3 linked regions of the Homo sapiens genome follow. The protein of the gene in region 3 purifies or fractionates together with the protein of the main gene of each other region. This does not show direct contact. Each region holds a gene or a part of one and is shown on either strand. Other genes may lie near its edges.

Region 1 (3,655 bases), on a different chromosome or scaffold from region 3:
TGCTTAGCTACTTCTTAAATTTTATTAAAGTGGGATCAGTCCCTGGATTCTAACCTTAATAAGCCCTGACATATACTTCTAGCTTTTGATGAGTCTTCCCTGTACCTTTTAGTATATCACTATCTGTTGTACTTAAGGAAAACAGCTCCAAGTCTCCTGCTTGACTTAAACTCTCAGATCACTTGTTACTATAAAGATTTACCTCCAAGGTTGTCTGTGTGCTGCATTAGGGGCTATTTTTATAGAGTTGCAAGTATGCTACCATTGGCAAGGAAACAGCACATTCATTCAGAATCATCAATGGAAATATATTCATCTTAGGATTCTTGTACTAAGCTATGAAGATTCTTGAGGATAGAGCCAAGTTTTACTGAGATTGAGACTGTGTACCCAAAGACAGCATTGGCTTTCCTGAACTTGAGATCAAAGCTAAACAGGAAAAATGATTTATGTTCACAGTGATCACTCATGAAAAATGGTCTGCAAAGATTTATTCCGCCATTGCCATGATTCACCCTGTATCTTAAACCTCAAGGCACTGTTATTCCTACTCTTGAAATTGGGCAGATACACATTATTCTTCCACTTTATTTTTTATTGGTAAAATGTTTGAATTTATTTCCATGTTTTAACCATATTAAAAGTATAATGAACACTCACTTTTTACTTTTTCTTTCTTAAAAGCAGATAAATTTTTTACATGGTGGCTCTTACCCAAGTTCATGGAAAAGAAATTTGTGCTAAGGAAGACCTCTTCGTATTTTAAACTCATAAGGATTTGATGTTTAAGAATTTATTTTCCAGTTAGGTGGGTGATTTGACAAAGGGAGATTACAAAACAGGATTTTTTTTTACTTTGCTGCTTTACTTTGCTGCCACCGCCGTTGCTGTCATCCAGGTTTTCATAGTGTCACTGTGAAGGCTAAAAGTGATCATCCTCAGTACCTCATTGTACAAGTAAAGTAGTCATGTTAAGTCATTGACTTTTGGAACATACCACATTGAGATATTAGCAGTACCAAATTCTGCTGTCTTTCAGTTCATTCCTTTCTGTTGTGTGTGCCCATTAGGCAGCTGCTTCTCTCTCTCTTCGCCTGGATGAAGGACTGTTCCCCAAAACCAAATGAAATACTTTTCCAACCTAGAGGCCTTGTAGTAGATTTAGTGTGCTTGTATGTAAAATTTAACGCTCTCCTGTGGTTTTAAGATACTGAACTCTGAAAATATCTTAGATACTTATTTTTTATTTGGTATAGCCAGGAAAAGAAACTGGTTAATAGCAAACAAGAAATATAGTTTCTCTGGTTTTGAAATAACTTCAAGCCTTTTCTGTTGTGATTTATAGTCTACTCATCGGTGTTTTCTAACAGAAGTGTATTTCTTTACATAGGTTACTCACTATAAACAATATCCACCCAACACAAGCAAAGTTTATTCCTACTTTGAATGCCGTGAAAAGAAGACAGAAAACTCCAAATTAAGGAAGGTGAAATATGAGGAAACAGTATTTTATGGGTTGCAGTACATTCTTAATAAGTACTTAAAAGGTATTACTTTTCCTAGTATATTTTAAACACTGCTTATTACTCTTAACTCCTTTAGGAGTTCTTTTAGAATTTTTAACAAATCTGTTAATTTGGATGCATTAAATCATATAATTTGGTGTGTGTTTGATGTTCTAAGTATGAGAAAAGTTTTCTGAAATAAAAGGTTTTTTTTTTTTTTTGGAAACCGAGTTTCGCTCTTGTTGGCCAGGCTGGAGTGCAATGGCATGATCTCAACTCAGCGCAACCTCCGCCTCCTGGTTTCAGGCAATTCTCCTGCCTCTGCCTCCCGAGTAGATGGGATTACAGGCATGCACCACCACACCCAACTAATTTTGTGTTTTTAGTGAAGACGGGCTTTCTCCATGTTGGTCAGGCTGGTCTTGAACTCTCGACCTCAGGTGATCCACCTGTCTCGGCCCACCAAAGTGCTGTGATTACAGGCGTGAGCCACCACTCCTGGCCGAACTAAAAGTTTTGAAATAAGTTTAGAAAAGTCATTAATTTTTGGAGGCTAATCTTGTTTGTTATACTTTAGTCATTAATTCAAAGTAAAGGAGTTGTTAATGAACTGGAAACTCCTTTTGAATTATGGTAGCAATCAGAATATTTTTATATTAGCCAGTTTTACCTTGAAGACCTATTTTTAAAAACTACCTGTGTCTCTGGACTTAGTTGCAAATGCATATTAAAACAAAAATCCCCCAATTTCTGTGCTTTCTTATTTGAAAGGCCATTTCTAGGGGGAAAACAGTTCCCAAACACATTATACATGTTGGAAAAGTTTATCTCTAACCTTTTGAATTAAACAATTTCAGAATTGAAAACAGTAAGGTGAATTTTAGGCCAATAACTCTTTTCTATAATCTTGACTCTTTTAAGATTAGGCAGTTCAGATAGTCTTATACTACTGAAAACCTAGCTAGATATCAGAAGTAATTATTAGTGGCAAGAATACCAAAGTTAATACCAAAGTTTTTTTGTTTTGTTTTGTTTTTAGACAGGGTCTCACTCAGTCACCCAGGCTGGAGTGCAGTGGTGCAATCTTGGCTCACTGCAACCTCTGCCTCCCAGGCTCCAGAGATCCTTCCTGCTCAGCCTCTCAAGTAACTGGGACCACAGGCTCGCACCACCATGCCTGGCTACTTTTTTATAGTGACAGGGTCTCACCATGTTGACCAGGCTGGTCTCAAACTTTTGAGCTCTCAAGCGACCCGCCCGCCTTGGCCTCCCAAAATGCTGGGATTACAGACATGAGCCACCACGCCTGGCCCCAAGATACTTTAAACGAGTTTACTAGTTATCTTGTATTAAGTTACCAGCAACTGATAGCACACTTTAATTTAGTCATACAACTTAAGAACTTTGTAAAATATTACTCATTTTTAATTATAACTAAAATGTATTGATTACCTATTCTAGGCCAGCATTATTGTAAGTGGTTCGTATGTCTTAACTCATTTTGTCCTCACAAACATCATATAAGTGGGTACTCGACTTTTATCCTCATTTACGGATAAGAAAAGTTAATTAAAAGTGTGTTGTTTGGGGGGCAGACATTTAGTAATTGTGGAAATTACTGACTTACCAACCCTAAAGATGCCACATTCTTTACGAACGAAGTGAGACGTTTCATTTGGATGTAAGAAGCTTTTGAGTCATCTCAAAGTTGAAAAGTACCAAAATTAATCGAGAGAAAAAAATTAAGTTAATATCATTTTTAAAAGCTGTGCAAGTAATAATTTTTTCTATTACACATCTGCTTTTACAATAAATAAACATTTATACTTTGAGTTATTAAAAGTACAAATTCCTTTTCTGACTCTGCTGTTGACTCTGGGTGAGCATTTAACCTCTTAGTTATATTTTTAATCCATAGAATGGGTGAAATAGCCAAAGATATTAAGTCTGTGACAGTTCAGCAACTCACAGAATGCACCTTTAGAAATGTAAACAGGACATGTATATTCTTCTAGGTAAAGTAGTAACCAAAGAGAAAATCCAGGAAGCCAAAGATGTCTACAAAGAACATTTCCAAGATGATGTCTTTAATGAAAAGGGATGGAACTACATTCTTGAGGTAAAAGATGGTTTCATCTTTTGATCTGTTT
Region 2 (3,655 bases), on a different chromosome or scaffold from region 3:
ACCCTTTTCTGCTCATCTTCCAAAACCGTGATTTCCCTATGTAGCTGGGAGGGTTTTTCCTCACATCAACCAATTCCCCAATTCTGTGTGGACACCAACTTGGTGTCCAACAATTCAGATGCATTCTGACATTCTCTACCTGGACTTAGCATCAGATCCCACAAGTGAGAAGGCTCAAATGCACAAGACTGCCCCCACTTCAGACACCAGTCGAGAGTCCTGGGCCACCTGTATTCCCAACCAACTAGTTATAAATTGGAGGTTCCCATGACCCTATCCTTGGGATTGATAATTGGCTAGAACGAGTCACAGAACTTGGAAAGCACTTTACTGGCTTATTATAAAGCATACGACTAGGGAACAAGCAAGTGAAGAGATGCACAGGGCAAGGCATGGGAGTGGATGGGCAAAGCTTCCATGCCCACTCCATGTGCACCACCTTCCCAGCACCTCAATATGTTCACCAACTTGGAAGCTCTCTGAATCTGGTTGTTTAGGGGTCTTCATGAAGGTTTATCGTGAAGGCATGATTGATTAATTCACTGGCTGTTGGAGACCGAACTCAATCTGTAGCCCATCTACCCTCTAGAAGTGGGAGAGGTAGGGCTGAAAGTTCTAACCCTCTAGTCATAAATTAGTCTTTCTGGCGACCAGCCCCCTTCCCGAAGCTATCTAAGGGCCCCCAGCCATAGATCATCTCATTAGCATACAAAAGCACAAACACACACATACACACAAACTGCTTTTTCTACTGTCACACTGAACACAGAATACTTCTGTGACCAGATGTGTGTGGGATTTCCCCCAGACACCAAACAGTACTCCAGAAAACACAAACTGAGTGTCCTATAATTGAATTCAATTCTGATACTATCTCAAGACATTGTCAGATCCCATAGGTTAAGGGCTCAATCCTACAAGACTGCCCTGACTTCAGGCTGATCACAAGCCTGAGGTTGTGCTTCTGGCTGAATGGCTATAAATCAGGGGTTTCCATTACTTCCTCCTTGGCTTCAATTAACTTGCTAGGACAGCTTACAGAACTCACTCATTGGTTTATTATAAAGGCTATACAAAGGATATAGATGAACAGCCAAGTGAAGAATGGATAGGCCAAGATATGGGGGCAATGCGGAGCTTTCATGCCCTACCTGGGTGTGCACCCTCCAGGAACCTCCAAATGCTCAGCAACTAAAAAGCTCCTCACATCTTGTTCAAGAGTTTTTGTAGAGCTGAATCTCCAGTCCCACCCTCCTTTCCTGGACTTTGGTGGGTGGTACCGAAAGTTCCAACTCTTTGATCCCCTAATCTCTTGGACTTGCTGGTGACTGGTTCCATCTTGAAGCTATCTAGGGATCTCACCCTAAGTCTGCAGGAGCATAAACCCAGGTATTATCATGGGGTTTATTATGAATCACAAAGGACATTTCTATTACTTAGGAAATTTCTAGGGTTTTAGGAACTCTGTGACAGGTACTGGGGACAAGGACCAAATATTTATTTTTTATTATACCACAGTGGTCTTCTACGCAGAAACCACATGGCTGCCCATGGCAACATAACTCAAACTTCTCAGGTGGCCTTTAGAGTTTACACAACCTCTTCTGCCATGATTCCTGCTACCTCACTCTGGTCCAACCTGGTCCATTGTGTAGATTCCTGCCTCTACACCTTTGCCCCATCCTCCTGTCCCTTCACTGAATCAAAACATTTCACTGTAGGGCTCCAGTTGTTCAAATATGTATGGGACCTCAGAGGTAAGCTGGTTCAAACTTCTATTTTATAGATGAGGAACTGGTGATGCTGAGAAGTGAATTGCATAGCCACAGATTGTAGATTTATCTCTTAAAAGGCAGAGAGAACCGTGGTGATCTCTGAATTTCCAGTGAGGAGTGTTAAAGGTGATAAGCTTTAAATTAGCAAACTATTAGGCAAACTTTCAAAAGCACAAGCCACAAGGAAAAAAAGATTAATTCAATTACAAGAAATGAAGAATTTCTGTTCAATGAAAGATACCATGGACAAAATTAATAGACCTAATATCATCATAATATATTTGCAATGTCTAAAATTGATCACAGATCAAAACCTATAACTCCTGAAAGTCAAAAAATATAAAGCTAACCCAATTTAAAAAATACCAAAGAATATGAATAAGCAATTAGAGAAGAGGAAGCTTAAAAAGTTAACAAACATATCAAAAAATGTCCAAACTCACTAGTTATTAGAAAAGTACATGATAAAGCAGCAATGTGTATTTTACACCTACAATAAAGCTGGATACTGCCATGATATATAGGTAAAATATAGAAATTTACATGTCCTGTTTGGGGATGGGAGTAGGTGGAAGAGAATGGAGGATGTCAGTCATTGAGGAAACCAGTCTTGTAGTACTCAAAGTATGCCCTGTGGCCAGCAATTCTGCTCCTGGGTAGAAATCATCTGGTGAGACCATCCAGGAAGATATCTGGAGCAGCATTATTTGTGGAGGCAGGGTGTTAGACGCCATCTCCAAACCCATCAGCCAGGGAGCAGATGGGTAAAATACGTGGAGATGGGTAAAATACACAGAGCACAATTCACAGTGATGTATAGGTATAAGGGCATCTAGGGCAACATGGACAAATCATAAAAACAATAAGTTCAGGACAAAAGTAAGAAACAGAAAGGGCTAAATAACAGGACTGGGTATGCCATTATAAAATATAAGCACACAAAGGTTTTGAAAGTGCATGTAGAAACAAAACTATATGCAGTCCATCAAACACATTAGAATGTTGTCTATGTGGGAGGTGGAGGGTGGCGAACAAAGGACCATCTATCTGACTAACCTGTCCCCTGGGTGAGTTAAAGGCGGGGGCCATGGTTCCCACCCTGGCTGCTGCCTCCCCCATTTAGGAGCAATTGGCTAGGGCTAAGGCTGCAGCCTTATGGGCAGGAAGTGGGCTCAGCAGCCAGGGCCTCAGAAGCAGCAGCCAAGCAGAGAAAAGGCACCTTTCTAGGGGACCCTAGAGACCTGCTCAAAGCTACCTTCCCCACAGCCTGTCTTGGTGAGAATCTCACCTCTGGAGGTGGATACCTTCAGTTTTGTGCTGTGGGGAGATTTCATAAGTCTGCTCAATGAGTAACTATAGCAAAAATAGTTTAGGCAATGGTACTTAGGTAAGATGGTAGAGGGCAGGCAGGTGGTAGACTGTGCCAGGCTGTGAGAATCAGATAATCTGATGCACAACCCAAACCTTCCCTTCCTCACAATTCCCCTCCTCCCCACCCAGGGCACATGAAACTCACTTTCAGTGAGCACCAGCAGGGATTATCTCATGTATTCCTCACAAAACCTCTGCAAGATGGGGGTTATCACTCCTGTTTTACAGCTAAGGAACATGAAGCTCAGAGAAAGTAACCAGGCCAAGCGCATACTGTCAGTGCTTCCATGCTGTCTTCCTCGTGCCTCAGGGGACAACAGTCCTTCCACTGAGACAGCTACACTAACTGGAGAGTTTTGCCATCCTCTTCCCAGTTTTCTGCCTAGTAGTGGTTCCAGGGGGTCTCCAGGATTGCCCTGGGTCCTCTACAGCAATCAGGATTACTCCAGTAGGTCTAGAAAGTGTACACCTCCTTGGAAGTTCCTGCTCGAGGGGACTCCTGTGTTTTA
Region 3 (3,459 bases):
ATGTGGTTCAGGATGCTAGCTGGCATTACAGAAACTGGTGTTTAGACATTCAACACTGCTTTTTTTAACATATTTGAATGATAGTGTCTGTTTCAGTGCAGGCTTTTTTGACATGAAGGGTGATCTACCTCAAAGGCAGTTATTCTGGAATTGAATCCTCCAAAATGAGGCCAATTAAAGGGTGTCTTCTACATAGGAGTTAAGGGAAGTGGTTGCCATCCCTCCCACCCTGAAAAAAAGAAAAAGAGAAAATGTTGGCTCTATTTATTGTTTTGGTGGGGTTATGTATGAAAATGACTAAGTCAACTCATCTGTTTGTGTTGTTGCTTTGGCTACTGGTCTGTTCTTTCATTTTGGGCTTATAGTGCTTTAAAATTCAATATATTGGATATTAAATGCATGTGATTAGGAAACAGTCTTGAAATATGCCCAGAGTTACTCAGTAGCTTCTTTTTTATAATTTTAATTGTGGTGGTCTCACATTTGTGGGTTTAAATTGTCTGAGTTATTGAGTGTTGTATTTTGTAGCCCCCTTCTTTAATTTTCAGAAGCACTGTCCATTTCATTTCGGTTTATAAAAATGCACATCTTTTGTTTATTGTTATGATTTATCCATGTGTGTTTTCTAGCCAATAAACTGTGTCTTGCAGTCATGATTGATCTTGTTTTACTGAGATTTAGTTTTGAAGACTAAAAATCTCCAGTGTTGATATTTAAGGTTTTTGAGGATTAATTCTTATAATCATTTTTGATCGAATAAAATTAACTCATTATGTCGGAGTATGTGCCTTTTGGGAGACAAAAATAATTAAGAGAATTGAAAGGATCTATAAATGTGTTTGTAGAAATTCCACTTGGGGATGTGGTCCTATTGTAGTTTACTGAAAACAGTTGTGGGCATTGTTACCAGTGGAATGTGTGCCCTAAGAAAACACCATTTGTGATGAATGCTGGGCGAACTGTGTTCTCAAATCATTCCTGTTGTCTAATGGTTATCTTACAAAAAGCATGTGCCTGGTTATGTTTGTTATGTGGCTTTGTACAGTCCTTACCTAGGATCGATTGGCTGTTGAGTTCGGGGGGCAGAAGTGCACTGACCCACTGTGGATTGTGTTGGAAGGCTGTTCCTGTAGTCATTTGCCTTGTGTTGCTTCCAGGGAAGCTGCCCGGGAGTGTCGCAGGAAGAAGAAAGAATATGTCAAATGTCTTGAAAATCGTGTGGCTGTGCTTGAAAACCAAAACAAGACTCTCATTGAGGAACTCAAGGCCCTCAAAGATCTTTATTGCCATAAAGTAGAGTAACTGTCTTTGACTTGGACCTTGTTTACTCTAATCAAGGCAGGAGATGCAGCAGTCCTACTTATTGCCATGTGGACTTGTGGGAAGGACACGTGTGACCCTTAAGAATCCAGTTTGGATTAGTGTTTGAAATTGAATTGGGAATGTTGTTCCAGGATGTGGAATGCAGCCGTGATCACACTTACCGAGCTTACTTTGATCTGTTTGTCAATAGCATGCAAAAAATGCTTTGTTTGCCCTTTGCTTCTGCTTTTTTTCAGGGAAGCTGCCAAAGAATGTCGACGTCGAAAGAAAGAATATGTAAAATGTCTGGAGAGCCGAGTTGCAGTGCTGGAAGTCCAGAACAAGAAGCTTATAGAGGAACTTGAAACCTTGAAAGACATTTGTTCTCCCAAAACAGATTACTAGAAATATTTAACTATGAACTGAAGGCAGCATGTATAGTTGCTTTTGAAGGAATACAATATATAGCTGGCAAGAATGGTGGCTTCTTTTCTTTGTATCATTCATCTTCTTCTTTAATCACTTAACATTCCTAAAATGCTTCACTGTACGTAGTTAAGTCGTAGCTATAACTTCAAATTTTTTAAAAGAGACAAACTGTAAAAAATGTGTGTATTCTTAAAATGCAATATTTGTAAGGCTTGTTCCAATGCCACATACTTGCAGCTCCCATTCTATGTGTCATCAATAGTGTCCTATGCAATAAAATTATTTGCAGGTCTTTAAATCATTTTAGGAAAGGATGATCAAAAATAATGCATCCAGCAGTACAATAAAAGTAAACCACAAAAAAATACCTCAGGAAAGAATAGAAAGAAAGTCTATCTAATGACATGCCTATATGAGAAGAATAGCCTAGATATGAATATATGGCATTTGCAGATTTTTATATTAGTTGCTTTGTTAAAAAAAAAAAGATTGTATTGCTGTCCTTGAATGCCATAGTCAAAGAGAGTTTTTAATAGAACCATGTTGGTTGCACTTTGTAGTGTTTGGTGCTCATTTAAATATCTGAACATTTACTACAGTTTTTAACTCTACTGTGTAATATAAAAGATCTTGCAGAAGTTCTTAGTGTTGGTTTAATATTACCTAATGAAAGTGATGACATATTTTTTATATCTGGAATGAGCCTGTTGGGATCGCATTGCATACCTTCGGGGTACAAGTCAGTTTCTACACTGGGTGCTGATCCTTGCACGCGCCCTTTCTACCATCTCACGGTGGGGATGGCCGCAGGGCTGTGCACCCAGAAGAAGATGGCTGTTAGCGTTTCGGCCTTCATAATGGCCTGAGACTTTCTTTCTGTAGGTGGTCTGGAGCTGTCCGGCTGGTGGCCCCCTATTTTGCCATTTAGCGAACAACCACAGGAATTTTAAAAACAAAAACATCCCAAGATTTTTTCATTTCAAAATGCTTCAAAGTCCACATTAGATCAGATACTCCGCTGTCGGCACATTCAGCTGAGGTTCATTACAATCGAGACTGCAATGTGATCTATGTTTCATCTTGTTTTTATAATAAAAAGCTTCAGGGAACAAGCCCAAAGCCCTCACCACAGGATGCTGTGTCCCCTCATTCCCTGACGTTTCTTGATTGTCTGCCGCGTGGTGGACTCTGCTGTGTTTCCTGCTGTGACTTCTGCTTTAAGGATGTCCCTGCCCCACCCCCCAGTTTCAAGAGTGGATCTGATCAGTGTGTGGTGGGAGACAGAAAATTGGGAGCTGGTTTGCGGAGCATCCAGCTGCTGCTTTCCCTGTACCACTGGAATTCTTTCCCTTATCTGTCACTCCCAGTAAGTAGGGCATGTCATTGTTGGCTTTCTTTAAAAATATTTATTCTTCCTTCAGAGTCGGAGCTCTGAATTTCTTTTTTCTTTTTTTCTTTTAAGACAGAGTCTTGGTTTGTCACTCAGGCTGGAGTGCAGTGGCGTGATCTCAACTCACCACAACCTCCGCCTCCCGGGTTCAAACAATTCTTCTGCCTCAGCCTCCCGAGTAGCTGAGATTACAGGCGTACACCACTACACCCAGCTGATTTTTCTATTTTTAGTAGAGATGAGGTTTCACCATGTTGGCCAGGCTAGGCTCGAACTCCTGGCCTCAAGTAATCCACCTGCCTTGGCCTCCCAAAGTGCTGGGATTACAGGTGCGAGCC

What was found.
Region 1: the proteins of CREM (region 3) and NAMPT purify together in Homo sapiens (affinity purification with mass spectrometry, with the first as the bait; one study listed by BioGRID). This does not show direct contact.
Region 2: the proteins of CREM (region 3) and NT5E purify together in Homo sapiens (affinity purification with mass spectrometry, with the first as the bait; one study listed by BioGRID). This does not show direct contact.

The regions. Positions count from the first base shown.
Region 1 is NC_000007.14:106,274,915-106,278,569, reverse strand, and holds part of NAMPT (nicotinamide phosphoribosyltransferase precursor), read left to right. Parts: intron 1-1,390; coding exon 1,391-1,547; intron 1,548-3,520; coding exon 3,521-3,624; intron 3,625-3,655.
Region 2 is NC_000006.12:85,452,988-85,456,642, reverse strand, and holds part of NT5E (5'-nucleotidase isoform 1 preproprotein), read right to left. Parts: intron 1-3,655. UniProt on the Homo sapiens protein: Catalyzes the hydrolysis of nucleotide monophosphates, releasing inorganic phosphate and the corresponding nucleoside, with AMP being the preferred substrate. Shows a preference for ribonucleotide monophosphates over their equivalent deoxyribose forms.
Region 3 is NC_000010.11:35,210,097-35,213,555, forward strand, and holds the end of CREM (cAMP-responsive element modulator), read left to right. Parts: exon of another isoform or gene 1-1,157; coding exon 1,158-1,302; 3' UTR 1,303-1,559; coding exon of another isoform or gene 1,560-1,707; 3' UTR 1,708-2,857; downstream 2,858-3,459.